Regions from separate parts of the Homo sapiens genome. Here region 1 is linked to region 2. The links come from fine-mapping of genetic effects on gene expression. A gene starts in region 2. The other region holds a variant in brackets. All regions are shown on one strand. Distances are from middle to middle. Region 1 overlaps TXN (thioredoxin). Region 2 holds the start of C9orf152 (chromosome 9 open reading frame 152).

Region 1 (11,262 bases), 37 kb before region 2:
AGGGTGCAGTGTGGCAACAGAGGCGCTGGACCTGGCTTCCAGTCCTGGCTCACTAGCATCTGCTTAGGCCAGTCACTCCTCTTCCTTGAGCCTTAAGACCTGCCCCATCAACCTCCCAAGGTTGCTTATTCATTGAGCAAACATGGAATATCCAATAAAGGGTGAAGGGTCACTTAAAACAGGCATATGGCAGTGCTCTCTAAACATGGGAGGGCGCAACAACCCCAGATTGTGTATTCTTAGCCAGTTTTTGACTCTGTGCCTTGGGCAACCCCTGCCTTGGCTTGTGCTGTCTTCTCCATCTGGCCTGTCCTTTCCTTTCCTACCTGACTAACTCCTTGTCATGAGCTTCACCCCTTCTCCACTTACCGCCTTGTGTGCCCTAAGTACCCAGTGAATCTTGGCAATTATTATAATGATCTTTATGTCTGTCCTTTACCATTAGTCTCAGTAGATTCCTAGGATCAGAGACCCTGTCTTAATTCACGTTGGTTGCCCCTTCACCTAGCACACCTGCCTTGCATGTAGTATAGGTGTGGAATGAATGAATGATGAATGTGATATGGTTGTTAAGTTACTATTCTAGATGTGTCCCAGAGTTGTTTTTTTTTTTTTAAAAAGAGTGTAATTGCATTTTTGTGAAAAATCCTTATCCCTTGTTTTAATCAAACTTAGTCTTATTAAGGTCAATTTAGCTAGGGGAAAATTGCACCTGGAATAGAGAAATTCTAACTGCCACTGATCCTATCAGATAGCAACTTGATTTTTTTTTTTTTTTTTTTTTTTTTTTTTTTTTTGAGATGGAGTTCACTCTGTCACCTGGGGTGGAGTGCAGTGGCATGATCTCGGCTCACTGCAACCTCTGCCTCCCGGGTTTAAGCAATCCTCTGTCTCAGCCTCCTGGGTAGCTGGGATTACAGGCATGCACCACCATGCCTGGCTAATTTTGTATTTTTACAAAATTAAAACCCCAGTAGAGACGGGGTTTCACCATGTTGGTCAGGCTGGTCTCGAACTCCTGACTTCAGGTGATCCACCCACCTCGGCCTCCCAAAGTGCTGGGATTATCCACCACGCCCGGCCTTGATTTTTATTTGAAAGCAATAATAGGTGCCAGATGCCATGATAAGCCCTTTGCATGCACTATGTCATTTAATCCTCACGATAACTATACGAGTATTTTTTATTAGCACCCTCATTGAACAGGTAATGGCACTGCAGCACAGAAGGTAAAGTCAGTCTCTTGAGGCAGACCAATGCACCATACTGTACTGAGGACAGGTCTTCTTACTGCCTTTAGGAAGTACAGTCATGCATCACTTAATGATGAGGATACTTTCTGAGAAATGTTAGGCAATTTTGTTGTGCACACATAGAGTGTACTTACACAACCTAGATGGCATAGCCTCCTGTACACCTAGGCTATGTGGTAAAGCCTGTTGCTCCTAGGCCACAAACAGGTAAGGCATGTTACTGTACTGAATACTGTAGGCAGTTATAACACAACAGTAAGTATTTGTGTATCTAAACATAGAAAAGGTATGGTGAAAACATGATATGAAAGATTAAAAAATGGTATGCCTTTATAAGGTACTTGCCATAAACGGGACTTGCAGGACTGAGAGGTGCTCTGGGCGAGTCAGTGAGTGGGTGGTGAGTGAATGTGAAGGCCTAGAACCTGTAGACGTTATAAACACTGTATGCTTACAAATTTTATTTTTAAAATTTCTTTTTTCAGCAATAAATTTATTGTAACTTTTTTACTTTATAGTTTTTTTATTTTTTTAACTCTTTAACTCTTGTAATAACACTTAGCTTAAAACACGAATGCATTGTACAGCTCTACAAAAATATTTTCTTTATATCCTTAGTCTATAAGCTTTTTTTAAAAAGACTTTTTAAACTTTTTGTTACAAACTAAGATTCAAACACATACATTAGCCTAGACCAACACAGGGTCAGGATCATCAGTATCACTGTCTCCCATCCCCACATCTTGTCTCACAGAAAGGTCTTCAGGGACAGTAACATGCATGGACCTTTCATCTCCTATGATAACAGTGCCTTCTCCTGGAATGCTTCCTGAAGGGCCTGCCTGAGCCTGTTGTATAGTAACTGTCTTTTTAAAAAAATAAGTAGGAGTACACTCTAAATTAATAATGAAATTAAAGTAAATACAAAAACCAGTAACGTGGGTGTTTATTATCAAGTAGTATATACTGTCCATAATTGTAGTGATATGCTTTTTTAAGTGAAAGCAAGTTTATTAAGAAAGTAAAGGAACAAAAGAATGGCTATTCCGCAGGTAAAGCAGTCTGTAGTGGTATACTTTGTATGTAATTGCAGCGCAGATTTGTTTGCACCAGCTAATGCGATGGGCTATGACATTAACCCATCACTAGGTGAGAGGAATTTTTCAACTTCATTATAATCTTATGGGACCACCACATATATGCAATCTGTTGTCGATCTAAATGTTATATGGTGCATTACTATAGGTGTGCAAAGCACTCGAGGACTTCCGTATGACAGAGCTCCTCCTTCATGTCTGCTTGGTGCACCCTGATCACCCTGAATGTATCTTTTTTTTTTTTTTTTTTGAGACAGAGTCTCACTCTGTCACCCAGGCTGGAGTGCAGTGGTACCATCTCTGCTCACTGCAACCTCCACCTCCCGGGTTCAAGCGATTCTTCTGCCTCAGCCTCCTGAGTAGCTGGGACTACAGGCAGCCGCTACCACACCAGGCTAAATTTCAACTTTTTAGTAGAGACAGCATTTTGCCATGTTGGCCAGGCTGGTCTCGAACTCCTCACCTCAAGTGATCCACCCGTCTTGGCCTCCCAAAGTGCTGGGATTAGAGGCATGAGCTACCGTGCCTGGCCTGAAAGTGTCTTTTAAAACCTTGAAGTGACCCTCTGACAAACTGAGGAACTTTAACTTTGCCTCCATAGATTGATAGAAAAGTATGAGTAGTAGCCCTTTTGAAAATGATAGACCAACCTTATTTCTCTGACAGCCAACAGGGTTATGATACTTATTTTATAAATGGTAACCTCCCTCTGACCCTTACTTGGAGTGAGTTTTCAATAGTATGCATTCAATAAACATTCACCATTTTTATTCCAGCCATTACTGTCCTTGTGCCTCTTACTGGAACCTGTACTTTCATGCTCAGCAGGTGTCCAGCATTAAAAGAAAAAGTAAAGATTACCTAGAAAGAACTCCTCAACAGTAGTGCCACCCACCATCCTAGAGGTCGTCATAGTGTTTGTAGCTGGCCTTTCTTCCCCTTGAGAATTCTCCGTTGGTTTCCGTGATTTGGTTATCAACAGTCCTGCCTGCTCGCTTGCTGTCCTGTGTAGCTTTTGCTGCTTAGGTGCTGAGTGGTTCTATATTTCTTTCCCAGTCCTCTTTTGAGTGCCTGGCTGACATTTTCAATCTCTATTGGGCTCCAAACCAAACCAGTTTCGTGGTATTGTCCTCCAAACCTTGCCCTCTTATAGCATGAACAATGTGTTGAGCATGGGGTATTATAAGAGTTCTCATTTAGCATTCCACAGTTGAGGAATGTGTGTTACTTCAATTACCTTTGAGCTGTAGAAAAATCTTTAGCTGTGGTAACAGCCACTTCTAGGAGAGGAGAAAATACGGATCAACTAGCCCAATTTGCGATGTTAGGAATTTGTCGATTTTCTTAGTAGGATGGCTTTCAAAGGTTAGAGCATCAGAGTCACCTGAAGCCCGACTTTAACTGTAATGGTTTAAGATGGGGTTGATGGGGAAACTTGTAGTACCCCTCAGGTAATTCTGATACTGCAGCAAGGTTTGAGAATTCACAAAGTCTTTTTATTTTTCCTCCCGAGATAGTCTCATTCTGTCGCCCAGGCTGGAATACAGTGGCATGATCTCAGCTCACTGCAACCTCCGCCTCCCAGGTTCAAGCAATTGTCCTGTCTCAACCTCCTGAGTAGCTGGGATGACAGATGTGTGCCACCACACCTGGCTAATTTTTGTATTTTTAGTAGAGATGGGGTTTCTCCGTGTTAGCCAGGCTAGTCTCGAACTCCTGACCTCAGGTGACCCACCGGCCTTGGCCTCACAAATCAGTTTTTAATTAAAAATAAGCAGGAGGCTGAGTGTGGTGGCTCACACCTGTAATCCTAGCACTTTGGGAGCCCGAGGAAGGTGGATCACTTGAGCTCATGAGTTTGAGACCAGCCTGGGCAACATGGAGAGACCTTGTCCCTATAAAAAAAAAAAAAAAAAAATATATATATATATATATATATATATATATATATATAGTGTGTGTGTGTGTGTATATATATACACACACACACACAAAATTAGCCAGGTGTGGTGGCGTGTGCCTGTAGTCCCAGCTACTGGGGAGGCTGAGGAGGGAGGATGGCTTGAGTCTGGGAAGTGGAGATTGCAGTGAGCTGAGACTATGCCCCTGCATTCCATCCAGCCTGGGTGACACAGCCAGACCCTGTCTCAAAAATAATAATAATCAGTAAACCCAGTGTGGGGTTATTCCTTTAGATTACTATTATTTTGTTCTTGAACAATTGATTTTTATTTTTTTAGACTTTTTAGCCTTTATATAATCATTCTGTGTACTCTGCCTTCATAATAAAACTGGAAAAATTATGAGCAAGAAATAAGAGGTACTAGTTCTGAGGAATAGTTAAGATTATCATACTGAGTCCAATTGTAGCAGAATTTTTTGTTGCTTCTTTGTATGATACTTAAAATAGTTGAAAATTTGATTGGATTAAAGAGCATATTGGATCGCTGGAGTATCTGATGCTAGTAACATTCTGAACATTCTGCCTGTTAATGTGCCCGTCAAAGGAAGTAAATATTAATAAAACTTCTTCATTGAGAATATAACCGGTTTGGCTTTTGTAATGCCATTATATTCATTATATTAATTTTCATATGCTGAAAAATGTCCTCATGCGGAAATGTGGGGTACATGACAGGGAAAAGTTTCTGGTTTTGGATTACTTCTGTCAAAGCTCAGTACTCGCAGTCTTGTATTTAATCCTCTCCCTTTGCTACTTTCCCTACCAGGATGTTGCTTCAGAGTGTGAAGTCAAATGCATGCCAACATTCCAGTTTTTTAAGAAGGGACAAAAGGTACGTACATCTGACCTTTAAAACTCTAACTGGGCAATAGGAAACCCAGTATAAGTGAATAAATCACTGGAGTGATGTTCCCTTTAAAGATTGAGGCATATCACCAAGTTCTGCTTTTAAGAATTTTTAAATATGCCAAAATTCATTGGCTTAAGTACATAATGTGACAGCTAACTGAAAATCAATCTTTCCTAGAACTAGTCCTATTTATATCATAAAGCACATAGAATTTCTTAGACTTGGGCAGTTCATTTGTTGTTAAGTATTGTGTAAAAGAAAATTTGTACTTGAGCCTTTTGACTTTTCTCTTGATATTTTTTCTTTGTTTATAACTTAAATGAACTGTATGTTATTCAGGGAAGTTTACTTTAAATAAGATTATACTTCTTTTTCCCTCCACCCCTATTCTTCCTTCATTCTATGCTGAATACATATTTATACATATGTATATATATACATATGTATATGTATATATATAAATACATATTTATACATATTTTATGTATAAAACAGTGCTACAGTGCTACGTCTAATGTCAATTCAATATTCTCTTAACAGGTGGGTGAATTTTCTGGAGCCAATAAGGAAAAGCTTGAAGCCACCATTAATGAATTAGTCTAATCATGTTTTCTGAAAATATAACCAGCCATTGGCTATTTAAAACTTGTAATTTTTTTAATTTACAAAAATATAAAATATGAAGACATAAACCCAGTTGCCATCTGCGTGACAATAAAACATTAATGCTAACACTTTTTAAAACCGTCTC[A/G]TGTCTGAATAGCTTTCAAAATAAATGTGAAATGGTCATTTAATGTATTTTCCTATATTCTCAATCACTTTTTAGTAACCTTGTAGGCCACTGATTATTTTAAGATTTTAAAAATTATTATTGCTACCTTAATGTATTGCTACAAAAATCTCTTGTTGGGGGCAATGCAGGTAATAAAGTAGTATGTTGTTATTTGTTATCTTTTGACAGAGAAAATAGCATTCTCTGTTTTAGCAGGTGAATCCTCTATGCTCTCCAAAAGATCAGCATGACCAAAATTGATGTCCACTCATGAAGGACTTGTTCGTTTTGTTTGTTTGTTTTGCCACGAGGATCGGATCTTGATTCTCCTCGAAGTATCTGAGAAAGTCTAGTTGTATAGGCCAGACATAGGTTCTGTCTTGAGTGGTAAAAGTTGTGGGAAATTATTACTTATATCATTCAAAGAACATTGTTTCTTGTGTTCTAAGCACAGTAAGGGGTTGGGGGTTTGAAGAAACTTTTTGAGTTTACATAATAATGAAGAGCAGAATTATCATATGCCAGGTATCATCTTTCTATTAATTCACTTAATCTTTGTAACAATCCTATTAGATATAGACACTATAATCCCCATTTACCTGTGAGGAAACAGACAAAGGGTGGTAATTTCCCCAGCATCACAACTAGTCATTGGAGGAGCTGGGATTTGAACCAAAGAAGTCTGGTACCAGAATATGTGCCTTTAACTACTACATTGCCCTCAGTGCAACAATCTGAGTAAGCAGGAAAATGATGGGCCCTTAGTTGAGTTTCTTTCCTCATGTGAAATTAGGATGCCAAACTTAGATGATCTCTCAAAATACTAATGGAATGCCTGTTATGTGCCAGGCATCATGCTAGGCTTGGGATAAAGCTGTGACTAAGACACCCTCATCCTCATACAGCTTACATTCTAGAAGCAGAGACAAACAGGTGAATAATAGACTGGTATATTCTACAAGGCAAAACCAAAAACTGGGCGCAGTAATGAGAAGAATAGGGGAACCAGCTGTGCATCAGGTGGTTGGACCTGGGTTCTTTGAGGTGACTGTAAACAGAGCTGTTGGATAAAAAGTACTCCAACCTGCTGAGAGCCAGGGAATCAGCTTTCAAGCAGAGAGAATGACAGACACAAAGGCTTGAGTCAAGAAAGAGCTTGGTACCTTGTAGAATCATCAGAGGAGCATGAAATAAAGCTCGATAGAGTGGCAGGGCCAGGTCAGCCAGGGCGTTATTTGTTCTAGAACGGATGAGAAACCATCGAAGGGTAAGTCAGGGTACATGCTTTGTTAACAAGTTATTTTGGCACCTGTATAGAAAACGGAAACTAAAAAGTGGAAAACCAGTTAGGCTTTTTTGTTTGTTTTTTGAGATGGAGTTTCGCTCTTGTCAGCCAGGCTGGAGTGCAATGGCGCAATCTCAGCTCACTGCAACCTCCGCCTCCCAGGGTCAAGCCATTCTCCTGCCTCAGCCTCCTGAGTAGCTGGGATTACAGGCACCCGCCACCATGCCCAGCTAATTTTTGTATTTTTAGTAGAGATGAGGTTTCACCATGTTGACCAAGATGGTCTCGAACTCCTGACCTCAGGTGATCCACCCACCTCAGCCTCCCAAAGTGCTGGGATTACAGGCGTGAGCCACTGTGCCCGGCCCCAGTTAGGCTTTTGCAATTACCTAGATCAGAGATAATGATAGCTGTGACTAGGAGGACAGTGGGGAAGTGACAGAGATGGAACAAAGCCTAAGGGCCTGTGAGAGGAAGACCCAGGAGTGAATCTCAGGTTTCTGGCAGAAGCCCTGGGTGTCGGGGTATGATGTGATGTCATGAGTGAGGTGAGGATGGGAGGGAGAAAGGGGTGGTGGTGAGGGAGTCAGTCTCTGGCCCTTCTGAGTTGGGTGCTTCTGAGGTGCACATCCCACTGAAGGTGCTGTGCAGGCTGTTGGGTACCTAGTTGAGAGCTCCAAGGACAGGTCTGGACTGGGATAGAAATTTGCAAGACATTGTCATGTAGATGGCACTTATAAACAAACATGACATCACCCAGGAAGAGTCCAGAGTGAAGAGGGCTCAAGATAGCCTGAAGGACTCAATATTTGGAGATCAAGTAGAATAGGAACCAACAAAGGAGACTGAAGGGTGGCCAGAGGGGAAAGACAAAAACCAGAAGAGGGTTTTATCCTGGAAGAACAGAGGAGAACATTTCAAAAAGGAAGGAGTATCATTTACCAAATTCCCTTGGAGCTAAGAAAGGTAAGGTTGAGAAAACAAAATGGAGGTTGGTGATTGCAACACAAAATTCCTATGGAGTGATGGGGAAGGAAGCCAGATTGGAGGGAACAGAAATCACACTTCTCATATCTGTCAAGCAATCCGGCCACCTCTGCCTCCCAAAGTGCTGGGATTATAGGCATGAGCCACTGTGCCTGGCCCAAACTTGTAGTTATAAAATGAATAAGTTCTGGGGAGCTAATGTGCGCCATGGTTACTATAGTTAATAATACCGTATTGTTCACTTGAAATTTGCTAAGAGTAGGTCTTAAGTGTGCTCACCCCACCCTCCACACACACACACACAAATGGTAACTGTGGTGATAGATATGTTAAGTAATGTGATTACTACACAGTGCATTCATATATCAAATAATTACATTGTACACCTTAAATATAAGCAATTATTGTCAATTATGCCTCAATAAAGCTAGAAGTTAGAAAAAAAAAAAAAAGAATAGATTCAGACCACAATAGGAGAGATTGGTGTTGGTTATGTCTTTCCTCCACCATAACCAGTGGGATGAAAGTGAGCGCAAGGTTAGAGAGCATTGTCGATTTAGGGATGGGAAGATGGCATTTCCATCTGATAGTTTCTGTTTTCCAAGCAGGCAGTTTTGAGGAGAAGGTATGAAATTGTTATCTTCACAGTGGCAAAGCAAAGCATGGTTTCTGGGCGTAGTTGAGTGTCTGCATGAGGTTTGTTAGGACCTCAGAGCCCTGCTGTGTGTGCAGGCAACTGAAGGTGGAGAGTTGAAGCCGGAGCAGGATTGGGTCTTTGTAGTTGAGTCCAGTAGTGAGTGGGGATGCAGAGAAGCTGACAGTACTTTTGAGGGATTGATTATACTGATGCAGTATAGAATCAAGGCTGGAGAAGTAGAGAGGAGAAGCCAAGAAGAGGCTGGTGAGCCACAGAAAAAGGAGTGTCTAAGGATTAGAGGTCTTGACAAGGTCAAAGAAGGCTGGCAGTGGGAGTGACTGAGCAAGCAAACTTTAAGAAGATGAGAGGTGGTAAGCAGAGTGAGATTTAAAAAACAGATTTGAGAAACAAATTTCCAGAGAAGACAAAGACTAGGGTGACCATGAGAAGGAGGTGAAGTGGGGTAGAGGAAGATTGGAACTCAGCAGGTCAAGGATTTGAGGCCAGGAACATACATGGGTTTCAGGGAAAGAAAATGGGAATAGGGATGGAAAGAGAAGTCTGTGAGGTGAACCATCTTTAGTGAGTGAGGAGGTTGATAGCAGATGGCAGCAGTAAGGAAGGTAGGAAGTTGGTACAACTTCATGAATGAGTTTCAGAGTAGTAGGAGATTTTGCAAGAAGGAGAAGTGGTTTGGAAGGGGCCTTAGGTGGGGAGGCAAGCAAAAAATCCAGTCACCTCCTGACTTGGGTATGTGGAGTGTAAAGTGTAGGGGAGGGGGAGCCCTTAGGATATTTCTGTTAAGGAAGGAGTTGATGTTCCAAGAACACATTAAAGATACAGAAACGGTTCCTGATCCAAAGCAAACTTCCAGCAGTTACTGTGAAAGGGATGGGGAGGGAGGGTTTGTTCAGGTTAAGGGCATGGGTCTAAATTTTGGCAGCACTTAGAATCAACTAGGGAGCTTTCCAAAAACAAAAGTGATGTTGGGATTCCAGTCCCAGAGATTTTGCTGTAAATGGGCTTGGGTGTTGCCTGGACACTATCTGATGTGCATTCAAAGTTGAGAACCAGCAGTTTAAGGGATATACAATATAGCCAGGAGATGATGGGTGACCAGCTGATCACCCATCTCTGGCAGTGATTGTGGTCAACACAATGAAATTCATTGATAGTCTCTTAGCATGAGATGGCAAACATCCTAATTGTTGCAGAAGGTAGTTAACAGATGCTTTTTATTTCTTGATTCGAAAGCAGTTTAAGAGACGAACATAAATATCATGGTGTTTCTTCTCATTCATATCGTTTCATAGCTGTTTACTGCCAACCTCCAAAAAATTCACAGATGCTAAACTTTGTTGCTTTGTTATGGAACAAGTGTTTAGAGTAGATGCTTTATAACTTGAATATATTATTACCTATTTAAAATAGTAAAGATATTAGAGTTAACTAAAGATCATACTTTATAAAAAAAATCTCAGTAACTGCACAGCACAATTCAATGTCATAAATTCTATTGTCCCCAAAGTGGATTACTTATATTAATAAATCTAGAAATATTAGTGAGCACTTTTTACTTGTCAATGCATAAAGTAATGAAGGTAAATATAGGATTTATAGTTCCGTAGAATATAGACTAACTAGTCATTAAAATAAGGCAAATATTGGCTGGGTGTGGTGGCTCACACCTGTAATCCCAGCACTTTAGGGGGCCAAGGCGGGGAGATCACCTGAGGTCAGGAGTTCGAGACCAGCCTGACCAACATGGTGAAACCCTGTCTCTACTAAAAATACAAAAATTAGCCGGGCTTGGTGGTGGGCACCTGTAATCCCAGCTACTCAGGAGGCTGAGGCAAAAGAACTGCTTGAACCCAGGAGGCGGAGGTTGCAGTGAGCCGAGACCGAGATTGCACCACTGCACTTCAGCCTAGGCGACAGAGTGAGACTCTGTCTCAAAAAGAAGAGAAGAGAAGAGACAAGGAAGGAAGGGGAGGCAAGGGGAGGGGAGGGGAGGGGAGGGCAGGGCACAGCAATGGAGGGGAGGGGAGAGGAGGGGCAAAAAGAGTATTCTGTTACATGAATACTGCAAAATGTATGGTATAGCACACTACCCTAGAGTTGTTCGTGGTCATCCAGAAGAAGCATGAGCTTAATGGCATGGCAGTTACTTTGGAGGAAGGCCAGGAATCCAACAGCTAGAATTTGAAGCAGAGCACCAGATGAAGCTGCAACGGAAGGTTGGAGCCTTGAACGCCTTGGAAATAATGTGGTCTCTTGTTCCCTGCATCGCAATGTGTTTTATGTCATGGCACACAAAGAAAACAATATTTGAACCCCCCACTGGGTTACAGTGGAAAGGATTTGGGAACATCTGTATGTGGCTTAGTGAAAAAATGACATTTTTACTTTAAACCATTT
Region 2 (11,262 bases):
GAGCAAGACTCCAGTCACTTAACTAACCCAAAGGCACACTTGACTCTAGAGAGCAAGGGGAGAGTAGCTAAGAATAGGGAAGATAAGACGCAAACCCGCATAGTCTAGCTTCATAGTTCATGCTCTCAATCCTTACACTGTACCACTTTTTAAAGCTGAGAACTGAAGGTGTTTACAAGTTAGCTAGGGGACATGTGGTTGCTGCCAAGGATGGAAATATAATGAAGATACGGTTGAGGTGAAAGTAAGTAAAGGAGTGTTCTAGAAGACAAAGAACAGCACATACCAAAGCTCCAAGGAGGAAAAGACATTGGTGGAATTCAAGAAATTCCTTCAGAGAAGGCTAAAGCGGTGAGAATGCTTTTCTCCCCTCTTTCACATCATGGCACACCTAGAAAATGACACTATTTGTATAGATCACTGGAATAAATGCAGAAGCTGTTTGTGGCTGGAGACACCCGGCCCAGGAGTTGTGGGTCTCAGTCATAGGCATATCTGGAACCCACTTATAGGAAATCTTGTCTAGAAAGTAGAGAGCAAGGGGAAAGTTGACACAGAGACTGGAAAGGTGAGACAGACCCAAGACAGGCACAACCCCCTGGGCCATAAGAAGGATTTGAATGCGAGTTTGAGTGTATTGGGAGGCCACTGGAGGATTTAACTGGGAGAGAAGCCATGAGATCCAATTTGCTTTGTGTCTTTTGGAGAACACTAACTGCTGTGAGGTCAAAGGATCAATGGATGAGAGGACAGGTGTGGAAGTGGGAGGGAGGGGACAGGTAAGAGGCTGTTGCAGTAGTCTTGGAAAAAGAAATGAGGACAGCATAGGCTAGGTGGATGACAGTGGAGGTGGAAAGAAATACATGGATTTCAGGTATCTTTTTTTTTTTTTTGCAATTTCTTCCTCCTAGTTCAAGTGATTCTCCAGCCTCAGCCTCCCAGTGGCTGGGATTACAGGTGCCTGCCACCACGTCTGGCTAATTTTTTGTATTTTTAGTAGAGACTGGGTTTCACCATGTTGGTCAGACTGGTCTTGAACTCCTGACTCAGATGATCCACTCACCTTGGCCTTCCAAAGTGCTGGGATAACTGGTGTGAGCCACCGCACCTGGCCGGATTTCAGGTATCTTTTAGAGCTTGTATCTCCCAGGCCTAGAGATGGTTTGGGTGTAAAAGGTGAAGGAGAAAGGATAGTAATGTTTCTTCTCTCACAGTGTTCTCATGAGAAATTAAATTTAATTTTGTCCAGGTTCCTCAAAAAAGCTAAACATAGAATTATTATATAGTCCAGCTTTTCCAAAAGAATTCACAGCAGGAATGCAAACACACACTTGTATATCAATGTTCATAGCAGCACTATTCCCAATAGCCAAAAGGTGGAAACAACCCAAATCTCCATCAACAGATGAATGGGTAAACAAACTGTGGCCTGTCCATACAATGGAATATTATTCAGCCATAAAAAGGAACGAAGTTCTGATGAATGTTTACAACATGAATGGGCCTTGACAACATGTTAAGTGAAATAAGCCAGTCCAATATATTACAAATATTGTATGATTCCACTTAGGTTGGGTACTAAAGTCATAGGGACAGGAAGTATAGTAGAGGTTGCCAGGGATGTAGGGAAGTGGGGAGCATTATTTAATGGGTACAGAGTTTCTGTTTGCGATGATGGATACGCTGGAAATAATGGTGATTGTTGCAGGGCACTGTGAATGGATGCAATGCCACTGAACTGTACACTGAAAAATTGTTAAAATAGTCAATTTCATTTACACAAATATTACCATAATGAAAAAATTGATCATTTACATAGAGTGATTAGCACATATCTGACCCACTGCAGTTTTAGATCAATGGTTATAACTATTGTTTTCATATGTCTAGCCTAGCCTCTCTTTTTTCAGAGAGGAATCTCCCTTACTCTTAAGGCTGAGAGCTTTGAATTTTTTAGTCTGTCTGCCCTGAAGCACTTCTTGACATCCTGAGTCCTTCTTCGTCATACTTGGCTCTCCTGTGGACACTGTCATTCATACACCTGCAAATCACAGTCCACTCCATAGGACAAGGTCCCCTCCTCATTGGAACCAGAGAGAAGAGAGCACAGGGAAGCCTCCATCCCTTGCAATCTTGCCCTCTTGATTCTCTAAGGCTAGATCACTAGGCTTCAGGGATGGGATAATCTCAGAGCGAACTTATTATAGGGGAGAGGAAAAGTGAAAGAACAGGGTAACTCAAGTTTTCCTGGAGTCTCCAGTGGAAAGAACTCCAAACTGAAGTTCTTCACAAGAACAGGATCCACCACTCCTGTCCTGCCCCCACTGTATACTGGGCTGACCCAGCCTGCTGCTCTCAAGCCAGCTCCCTAAGGGATTCCTTCTTCAAGTCTCTGAGTCTCTACCCACCAATGACTGGTCTTTGTATGGACAGGGTTATTGTCTGAGTCATTCTCTCTGGAGTGGTACCCCAGTTGTGAGTGATACCTGTTGCCACTCAAGTCTCACAGAATAGCTGGATCCCCTGGACAGGAGTGGACCTGGAGCCTCTGGTCTAAGTTATTTTACTGGAAGCTCCAGGGAGGGCTGTAGGGATGCTGGTTCCGGTAATGAACTAACCTGCTACATTAAGCACAGTCTTATCTCTCAACCAGAATGGGACATTTCATGTTCCATACAGTTTACATATATACAGAAAAACAAAATATTCCCTAGAATCACAAGACATCTTATTCCTACTCCAGCGTCTCCAGCCCTGAACAACTTTGAAGCTTATTTCCAGTTCCTCTGAAGGATATACCTGGATAATGAAAGTCACCCATTTAGTGGCAGCCACCCAGAACAAACTCCAGGCTTGATCATCTTTTTTCATTTATTTCTGAAGACTCCCTGGGATGAGATAGAGTTGCCAGTTTTTTCTTATACTATTGTTATTGTTATCACAGACCAAGGAAAGGAAAGTTTATTCAGTAAGTGCTATTGAAACAACTGGTCAATTATTTGGAGGAAAAAACCCCTAGATCCTTGCCTTATACCTAACACAACACCAAAATAAATTTCAAATGGATTAAAGATTTGAGTTTTAAAAGAAAGAGGAACTATATGAACTAAAAGAAGGAATTTAAGCTCCTAAAAGGCATTCAATCAGCAGTAGACAGCCTCAATTTACTTCTCATCAAAATATCCACAAACGCACCCATATAGAAAAAGACAAAAACTGTTAATACTAAAAGATGAAGGCTGACAAGTAAATGCGAAAATATAGTAGAAATTTCTACTGCCATTATTTCTCTCCTCCTCTTCTCTTCTCTTCTCTTCTCTTCTCTTCTCTTCTCTTCTCTTCTCTTTTCTTTCTGAGACAGGAGCTCACTCTGTTACCCAGGCTGAAGTACAGTGGTGCAATCATGGCTCATTTCAGCCTCGAGCTTCTGGGTTCAAGTGATCATCCCACCTCAGCCACCCGAGTAGCTCGGACTACAGGCATGTGCCACCATGCCTGGCTAATTTTTGTAGATACAGAGTTTCACTATGTTGCCCAGGCTGGTCCTGAACTCCAGGGCACAATCAATACACCCACCTCAGCCTCCCAAAGTGCTGGGATTACAGTTGTGAGCCATTGTGGCCAGCCTACTGCCATGATGTCTACTGCCATGATTTCATGGCAGGTGCAGCTGGTCCAGCATGGATGGGTTGCTCTTGCCTTCATGATAGAGTGATCTACCGATAAAAAGGTATGAGGAAGCTTTGGCTATCTCTCTCGGTATTTTTTTGAGACAGATTGAGCTCTAATCCAATGTGATTGCTGTACTTATAAAAAGGGGAAAATTGGGCACAGAGACACCCACATAGGAAGAACATCATATTAGGCCGGGTGTGGTGGCTCACGCCTGTAATCCCAGCACTTTGGGAGGCCAAGGCGGGCGGATCACAAGGTCAGGAGATCGAGACCACGGTGAAACCCTGTCTCTACGAAAAATACAAAAAATTAGCTGGGCGCGGTGGCGGGTGCCTGTAGTCCCAGCTACTCGGGAGGCTGAGGCAGGAGAATGATGCGAACCCGGGAGGCAGAGCTTGCAGTGAGCTGAGATTACGCCACTGCACTCCAGCCTGGGCGACAGAGTGAGACTCCCTCTCAAAAAAAAAATAAAATAAAAAAATAAAAAGGAAGAACATCATGTCAAGATAAAGGCAGAGATTAGGCAATGTTTTTGCAAGCCAAAGAATACCAGAGATTGCTAGCAAACCATCAGAAGCAAGGTGAGAGGCATGGAACAGATACTCTCACACAGCTCCAAGAAGAAACCAACCCTGCTCACACCTTGACTTTGGACTTCTAACCTCCAGAACTCTGAGACAATAATGTTTGTTGTTTAAGACATCCAGTTTGTGGGATTTCGTTATGGCAGCCCTAGCAAAACTAACATATACTACCCAGTGAAGATTTGCTCTCCATCTTCCACGGCTCCCCCACATCAAATGACTAGATCTTGTCTGGTTAATGTCCAAAATGTCTTGTAGGTTCAGGCTCTACTCTGTTTCCATTGCCTCTGTAGACATATTGGGTAATTGGGTAATCAGTAAGCACCGTGATAGGAGAAGATAGAAAGGGACTTAGTTGACCAAATGCAGCAAGGCTAGGTCAAAGCTGGTGTAAGAGGGAGAGGGTCTGGGATTCAAAAGCAATGTGGAAATGTTGAGGCTGGCAAGCAGAGAGTGAGGGGATGCCTAACTTACCACTTGGTTGGAGAATGCTGAGACGGCAGAGGCTGCACCAAATGTCCAAGGGGTAGGGCTGGCCCGAGGCCAAGATTCCCCTGGGCTCTGTCCCATGGCTGACTTTAGGGCTGAATTTTCACCTGGGGTGTGTGTTGGGGTCTGAGTGGAGATCTTGGGGAGATCTTTGCTACTGGGTTTCTTTAGGGTGTGGCCGCGGGGCACACATCCAGAGGCACCGACCTTGTGAAGCTCCCGAGGGTGTTCTTTGAACTACTGCAAACCCAACCGGCAGGTTTGCTGAAAAGTGGCCACGTTCCAGTCCAAAATGTGTGAGCAGAGCGCGAGCTTAGCACTCCCCAGCCCCAGTCCCAGCTCTGCCAGGAAAGGGGAGACTTCACCGTGGCACTGGGAATTGGATTCTAAACTTTAGGATCAAGCAATGGAAGGACCTGGAATAAGACACCTTCTTGACCCCCCTGAAGGGCTCTGAGCAGCTGGGCTTGCCTTTCTCTTTGCTCCCCCAGTCCTCCCCTTACTTCTCGGTCTCCCACTCCCCATCACTCCTTTCCCTGCCTCCTCCTGCCTGTCTCCATCTTCCTCCCTCTCTTTCTTCTCTCGCCCCATTAATCCCCGCTTGTCACTATCACCTCCTTCCTCCAGTCTTTCCCCCTTCGCTGCCCCTTCTTTCCTCTGACATTTCCTTCTCCTCTTACTGCCACTGTCTCCCACCTTTCTCCTCCCCCACATTTCTCCCTATCCCTACCTCCTCTTCCCCTTCATCTTTCTCCTTCCCCCTTATTTTTCTATCTCCTTCCTCAGTCCCACTCCTCTTTCCACCCTCCTTTTGCCCGTCACTTCTCCTTCTCCCTCACTGCCCCCTCCCTCTCTCTCCCCTCCCCAGGTCCTGCCCCACCCAGCTGTGTTTGCTTTTCTCCCGGATCCGGATGGAGGGGTTGCCCTGCCCGTGCCCAGCCCTGCCCCACTTCTGGCAGCTTAGGTCTCACTTAATGGCTGAGGGCTCCAGGACTCAGGCCCCTGGGAAAGGGCCCCCACTCAGCATCCAGTTCCTGCGAGCCCAGTATGAAGGCTTGAAGAGGCAGCAGAGGACCCAGGCCCACCTCCTGGTGCTTCCAAAAGGTAGGAATGGACAGGTGCTGGGGAAGGAGAGACTTACCATGGGAGACCTGAGTGGCAGAGCTGCAGGGAGGCAGAGCCAGGGCTTTGCCAGCCCTCCCTCCCAGTGGGGAAGAGCAGGGGAGGCGGGCTCAGGGCAGCTCTGCTCAGCTGTCCCACCTGCTAAGGGAGCCAGGGGCCTCAGCCAAGCACCTGGCTGCCAGCACTGTTCCTGGCCTCTGCTCTGATGTTCTAATCTTGCTAGACTGGTCAGCCTGGTGAGCCAGGCTTGGCCCCCCTGCTAGCCCAGGTATGGCGATAGGAGCTCTGCTTCCTGGCTGGGTCTAACTAAGGCACCTCCTACAAACCAGAGAAATTCACTCTGGAGGTAGAAGACATGGCGTTCCCAACAGCCTGGGAACTGTCTGGGCCAGAGGACGCCTAGGGCTCAGAGACCCATGAGGCATCCCAGGCTCATCCAGCCTCAAACATCAGGCAGGGAGGTGTGATTGGACACAGAAACCCCCTCATGGGGAGAAACCTCCTCCCTTTAGGAACTCAGATTTCATTCCAGGAGGGAGTTAGAGGCACAGGGCTCAGAAAGCAAGGGCATGTCAAATCCCAGCCCTTCCTCCTCTAACAGAGGAACAGGTTGAGGGAGAAGGGAAGATACCCTGAAAGGTCAAAGCTGGGCTCTGTGGGATTCTGTGGTTATTTGTAGAGTTCAGTAGACTCTTTGGGCTGCCCTTTGCCAGGCCAGACTGGGCAGGAATCAGGGGCCAGAGGGACCTCTCTGTCTAGGGCAGGAAGTGTGCTGCCTTTTGGGAACAAAAGTGGCACCTCTGAGCTGAAGGAGCCCATCTCCCATTACCTGGGCTGTTGCCAACCAATGGAATCCTCGTTCCTGGCAGGAGTGAACTGGCACAGCCAAACAGTCACCATCTCTGCAGGGCATAAACTGAAAGGTTCCTAAAGCTCTATCCCACCCTTGAGGGTATTTATTCATTCAGTTATTCAACAAACATTTATCAATTTAAATCCCTATCAAATGGAAACACAATGCTTAATACACCTGCAATTCAGACTCACAAATCTAATTGCTTAGTGGGGATGATCCAAAGACATCTCAAATTCAACATGCCCCCAGAGAATTCACTATACCCTGTGCTCGTCCTTTCTCCTGCTCTTGGTAACTCGGTACCCCCTTTCCCATCATTACTAGGTGCTAAATTATGGTTCATGCAAGGAGTGCCCAGGTGTGGCTTTCTCCGAGAAGACTTCTGACCTCCCAGCTAGGTCAGGGTCATTCAGGGCACTTTCAGCAGTTTGCAGTTCCACATTTTTTTTTTTTTGAGACAGATTCTCACTCTGTTGCCCAGGCTGGAGTGCAGTGGGGTGCAATCTCGGCTCACTGAAACCTCTGCCTCCCGGGTTCAGGCAATTCTCCCTGCCTCAGCCTCCTGAGTAGCTGGATTACAGGCACCTGCCACCATGCTCGGTTAATTTTTGTATTTTTTTTAGTAGAGATGGGGTTTCACCATGTTGGCCAGGCTGCTCTTGAACTCCTGACCTCAGGTGATCCACCCACCTCGACCTTCAAAAGTGCTGGGCGTGAACCACCATACTTGGCTGAGTTCCACATTCTTTATCTAACTGTGAGAGGCAGCATACTGTGTAATGGAGTGGTCATGTACTGGGTCTTGGAGCACAGCCTGAGTTTGAGTCCCAGCTCTGCCATTTACTTAATATGCAGCTTTAAACAAGTTACATAAATTTTCTGGGGCTCAGTTTCCTCACCTGTCAATTGGGAATAACTGTAGTACCCAAATCATAGGGTTATTGTAGGAATAAAATGAACTAATATGTATAAAGCTCATCAAGGCCTTATGCACTGACTGGCTGAGGACAAGATCACGTATGTCACATGTATCTAAGTAGGAAGGCCACTTGAAACACTAGCACTGAATGTGAAGGAGTAGGTAATTATCCAGGGAGAAATCAGAGTAAGGTGACAAAAATAAGGTGAAAATGGCACTAAGGAGGCAAAAGAGCAATTAATTGTCCCCTATACTTTAGCAACAGGATAGATGGTGGTATCTTTCCTTGAGAATACAGGAGAAAAAGGCTTTTTGTGGAGAAAAAGGCTTTTTGTAGAGAGAGATGAACTTGTTTTTGAATATACTGCATTGGAGATAGTTGCCTGTAGACCTTCCATCCAGCCTGGATCTCATTTGGGCTGGAGAGCTAGATTTGGGGTTATTCATCTATAGATGGTAGCTGAAGCCATGGGCATGGATAAAACTGTGGCAAATCCATGTGTAAATTGATAAGAAACTGGGATGAAAATTAGAGTTCTGGAATACTCAAATATTTAAGGAACAAGAGGAGGAAATGAAGCCAGGGAAGATGGAGAGAGCAGTCAAAATTTGAGGACAGGCATATCATTCAGCCATAAAAAGGAAAGAAATTCTGCCATACACTACAACATGGATAAAACTTGAGGACATTATGCTGAGTGAAGTCAGTCAGTCCCAAAAAGACAAATACTGTATAATCCCATTTACATGAGGTATGTAGAGTAGTCATATTTAAAGAGACAGAAGGAAAGCAGAATGGTGGTTGCCAGAGGCTGGGGCATGGGGAAGTGGGGCGTTATTGTTTAATGCTTATAGAGTGTCAGAGAAACTGAAGAATTCTGGAGATTGGTTCCACAATGTGAATGTACTGAACACTACTAAACTGTGCACTTAAAAATGGTTAAGATGGTACATTTTATGTTCTATGTATTTTACCACAATTAAACATATTTTAAGTGGTATAAGAAAATCAAGAGCAATTAATGTCATGAAGCCAAGCTGGTAGAGGGATTTTAGAGGACCGTGATCCTCAGTGCCCAGTGCAGCAAAAAGACCCAGGAAGAGAGAGTGAGCATTGAGACTGGGCTCCTACTAAAGCTAGAAGTCAATGTCTCAAGACATTGGGTTGCGTTTAGAAGCTCAGAAATTCTAGGAGCTGATCAATGAAAGGAAGGGCTCCGAAATTAGCTTTCTTCACCCTGTCTTAGCATTATGCGATGGATCCAGCTTCTGGAAATGCAGTTACAAGTAGCAGCGTGCCTTCCCTGATGCAACGTAAGTACCCAGGGGACCTTGAGCTACTTTCAGAAGTCTGTGGAGCCCCAATTACTCCCAGTGATTGGTGTCCAAAAGGAATATGCTTTTGTCACAGTCAGACACTGTGTGACTCGCCTCATGTAGAAAAAGGGATTAGGGTCGGGACTTATATCTGGGCTGGATGTTTTATATTACATTTCATTGAACATTCCTGGCAGCCTTGTAAGGTAGCTCCCTTTTTAAGATCTCCATTTATAGATGAGGAAATGGAGGCCTAGGGTCTCCTAGTGAGTCAGTGGTGAACTCAGGACCAGACCTCATGTCTTCCTGACTCTGGCTTGATGAGAGAGGTTCCACCAAAGGTCTCAGGCAGTTAGGGTGAATTTCGATTCTTCTTTCCTCCCTGAGTCTCTCTACCACTCTCTTCGCTCTTCTCTCCACCCGCTTCCTTCATCCCCACTGAAGAGAGAAATCAAGGAGGGGCTCAAAATACCCCTTCTCCAACTTGTATCTTCTGGCAAAGTGAATCAAGGGTGGAGAATGAAGAAGGTATTATAGATAACGAGTACATTTCCTTCCAGTCCCTGACTTACCAAAACCAAAACAAAACAGATAAAAAACATGATACGAAATTTCCCTGTACTCTTCAGTCAATTACCCTAATTCTCTTTCTCTTGTACAGTGAAGGGCAGGCACCATCCCAAGATGTGCAGGGTACTGCCACAGAAGGCTCATGGTGATTCTCAGCAGAGGCTGCTCTGGGGTGGGGTCCCTGTGTATCTCCCAGCCTAACTCTTTTTCCTTTCCTCTGAACCACAGGCTGGGACTGACAGCTGAACAGGCCTGTCCACCTTCAGTCCTTTCCTTCTAAACTAATGCTAGGATACCAGTTTCTAGGTTCTCCCATTGTGTCTCCCTCCTTCCTTGTTCTCAAATAAGTACATAACATGTTGGATATTTATAAAAGTTTCCTTTGGCTGGCCGCGGTGGCTCACGCCTGTAATCCAAGCACTTTGGGAGGCCGAGGCGGGCGGATCACAAGGTCAGGAAATCGAGACCATCCTGGCTAACACAGTGAAACCCCGTCTCTACTAAAAATACAAAAAAAAGTAGCTGGGCGTGGTGGCTGGCACCTATAGACCCAGCTACTCGGGAGGCTGAGGCAGGAGAATCGCTTGAACCCGGGATGCAGAGGGCGGAGGTTGCAGTGAGCCAAGATCGCGCCATTGCACTCCAGCCTGGGTGACAGAGCAAGACTCCATCTCAAAAAAAAAAAAAAAAAAAAAGTGTTTTCTTCATTTCATGCTGGAAAATAATACTAAGGAATTAACCAGTTACAAAGCCGGAACAAATCTTGAGTCACACTAGAGTTAGTGTTGACAGGAGAGTAATTGTTGGCTGAGATGGCTGCAGCTGGTCTTCTGTTTCTTTGGGATCCCTGAATTGGAGCTCAGGGGCTTCTTTCTGACTTTATTCTTCCAACATCATCTCCCCACTCTTGCTCTGCACATTGTCACCTCCAGGGCCTCCTGTGATAACAGGTGCCGGAACAGATAAGTGAACCTAAGTGACACCTCTGAGGAGCTCCAAGCTGGTCACACACCTGCTTTCTATAAGGAAAATGCCTTTCAGTCATTCCAATACCTCTCACTGCCACCAAGAGTTAACAATGAACTGTCATATTCCACTAGGTGGTTTAAAAAAAAGTCCCCAAGAAAGAAAAGAGACATTGGTCTGCCTCTTTCACCCTAAAGCCAGTTCTGAGGAGCCGTAAATGCTGCAGATGTCCTCCCAGAGCAGTGCCTGTGGACTAGGAGAAGGATAATGATTGGTTCTCTAAAGGGAGCTGCTTCAAAACACAACTCCTCCCTCTTCTGCCTTGGGTGGTAAACTCACTATCAGAATCCCAGGACACAGCCGAGCGCAGTGGCTCACGCCTGTAATCCCAACACTTTGGGAGTCTGAGGCGGGCGGATCACTTGAGGTCAGGAGTTCAAGACCAGCCTGGCCAACATGGTGAAAATCATGTCTCTACTAAAAATACAAAAAGTAGTCAGGCATGGTGGCAGGTGCCTTGTAATCCCAGCTACTCAGGAGGCTGAGGCAGGAGAATCGCTTGAACCCAGGAGGTGGAGGTTGCAGTGAGCCAAGATTGCACCACTGTACTCCAGCCTGGGCAACAGAGTGAGACTCTGTCTCAAAAAAACAAACAAACAAACAAACAAAAAGAATCCCAGAACACAAAACCCCGTAAGTTAAGAATAATCTTTTCCACTGGTGAGAATATGTGAACCCACATGTGTGTGAGTCTGTGTGTGCTC

The links.
Region 1: its variant is fine-mapped to the expression of C9orf152 in whole blood (GTEx, PIP 0.97). The same link has a PIP of 0.9 or more in monocytes, monocytes after LPS, monocytes after Pam3CSK4 and monocytes after R848.

What each region holds. Positions count from the first base shown.
Region 1 is chr9:110,238,661-110,249,922 of GRCh38, reverse strand. It overlaps TXN (thioredoxin), which reads left to right. Exons shown (of 5, transcript NM_003329.4): 4 at 5,080-5,145; 5 at 5,704-6,113. The coding sequence ends at 5,766. Among named protein-coding and RNA genes, the nearest start is that of TXN, 12 kb to the left of the region's middle. The variant A/G (reference allele first, on the strand shown) is at 5,915.
Region 2 is chr9:110,201,977-110,213,238 of GRCh38, reverse strand. C9orf152 (chromosome 9 open reading frame 152) reads left to right here and starts at 5,080. Exons shown (of 2, transcript NM_001012993.3): 1 at 5,080-5,852. The coding sequence starts at 5,660. RefSeq lists enhancers at 5,410-5,910, 5,911-6,411.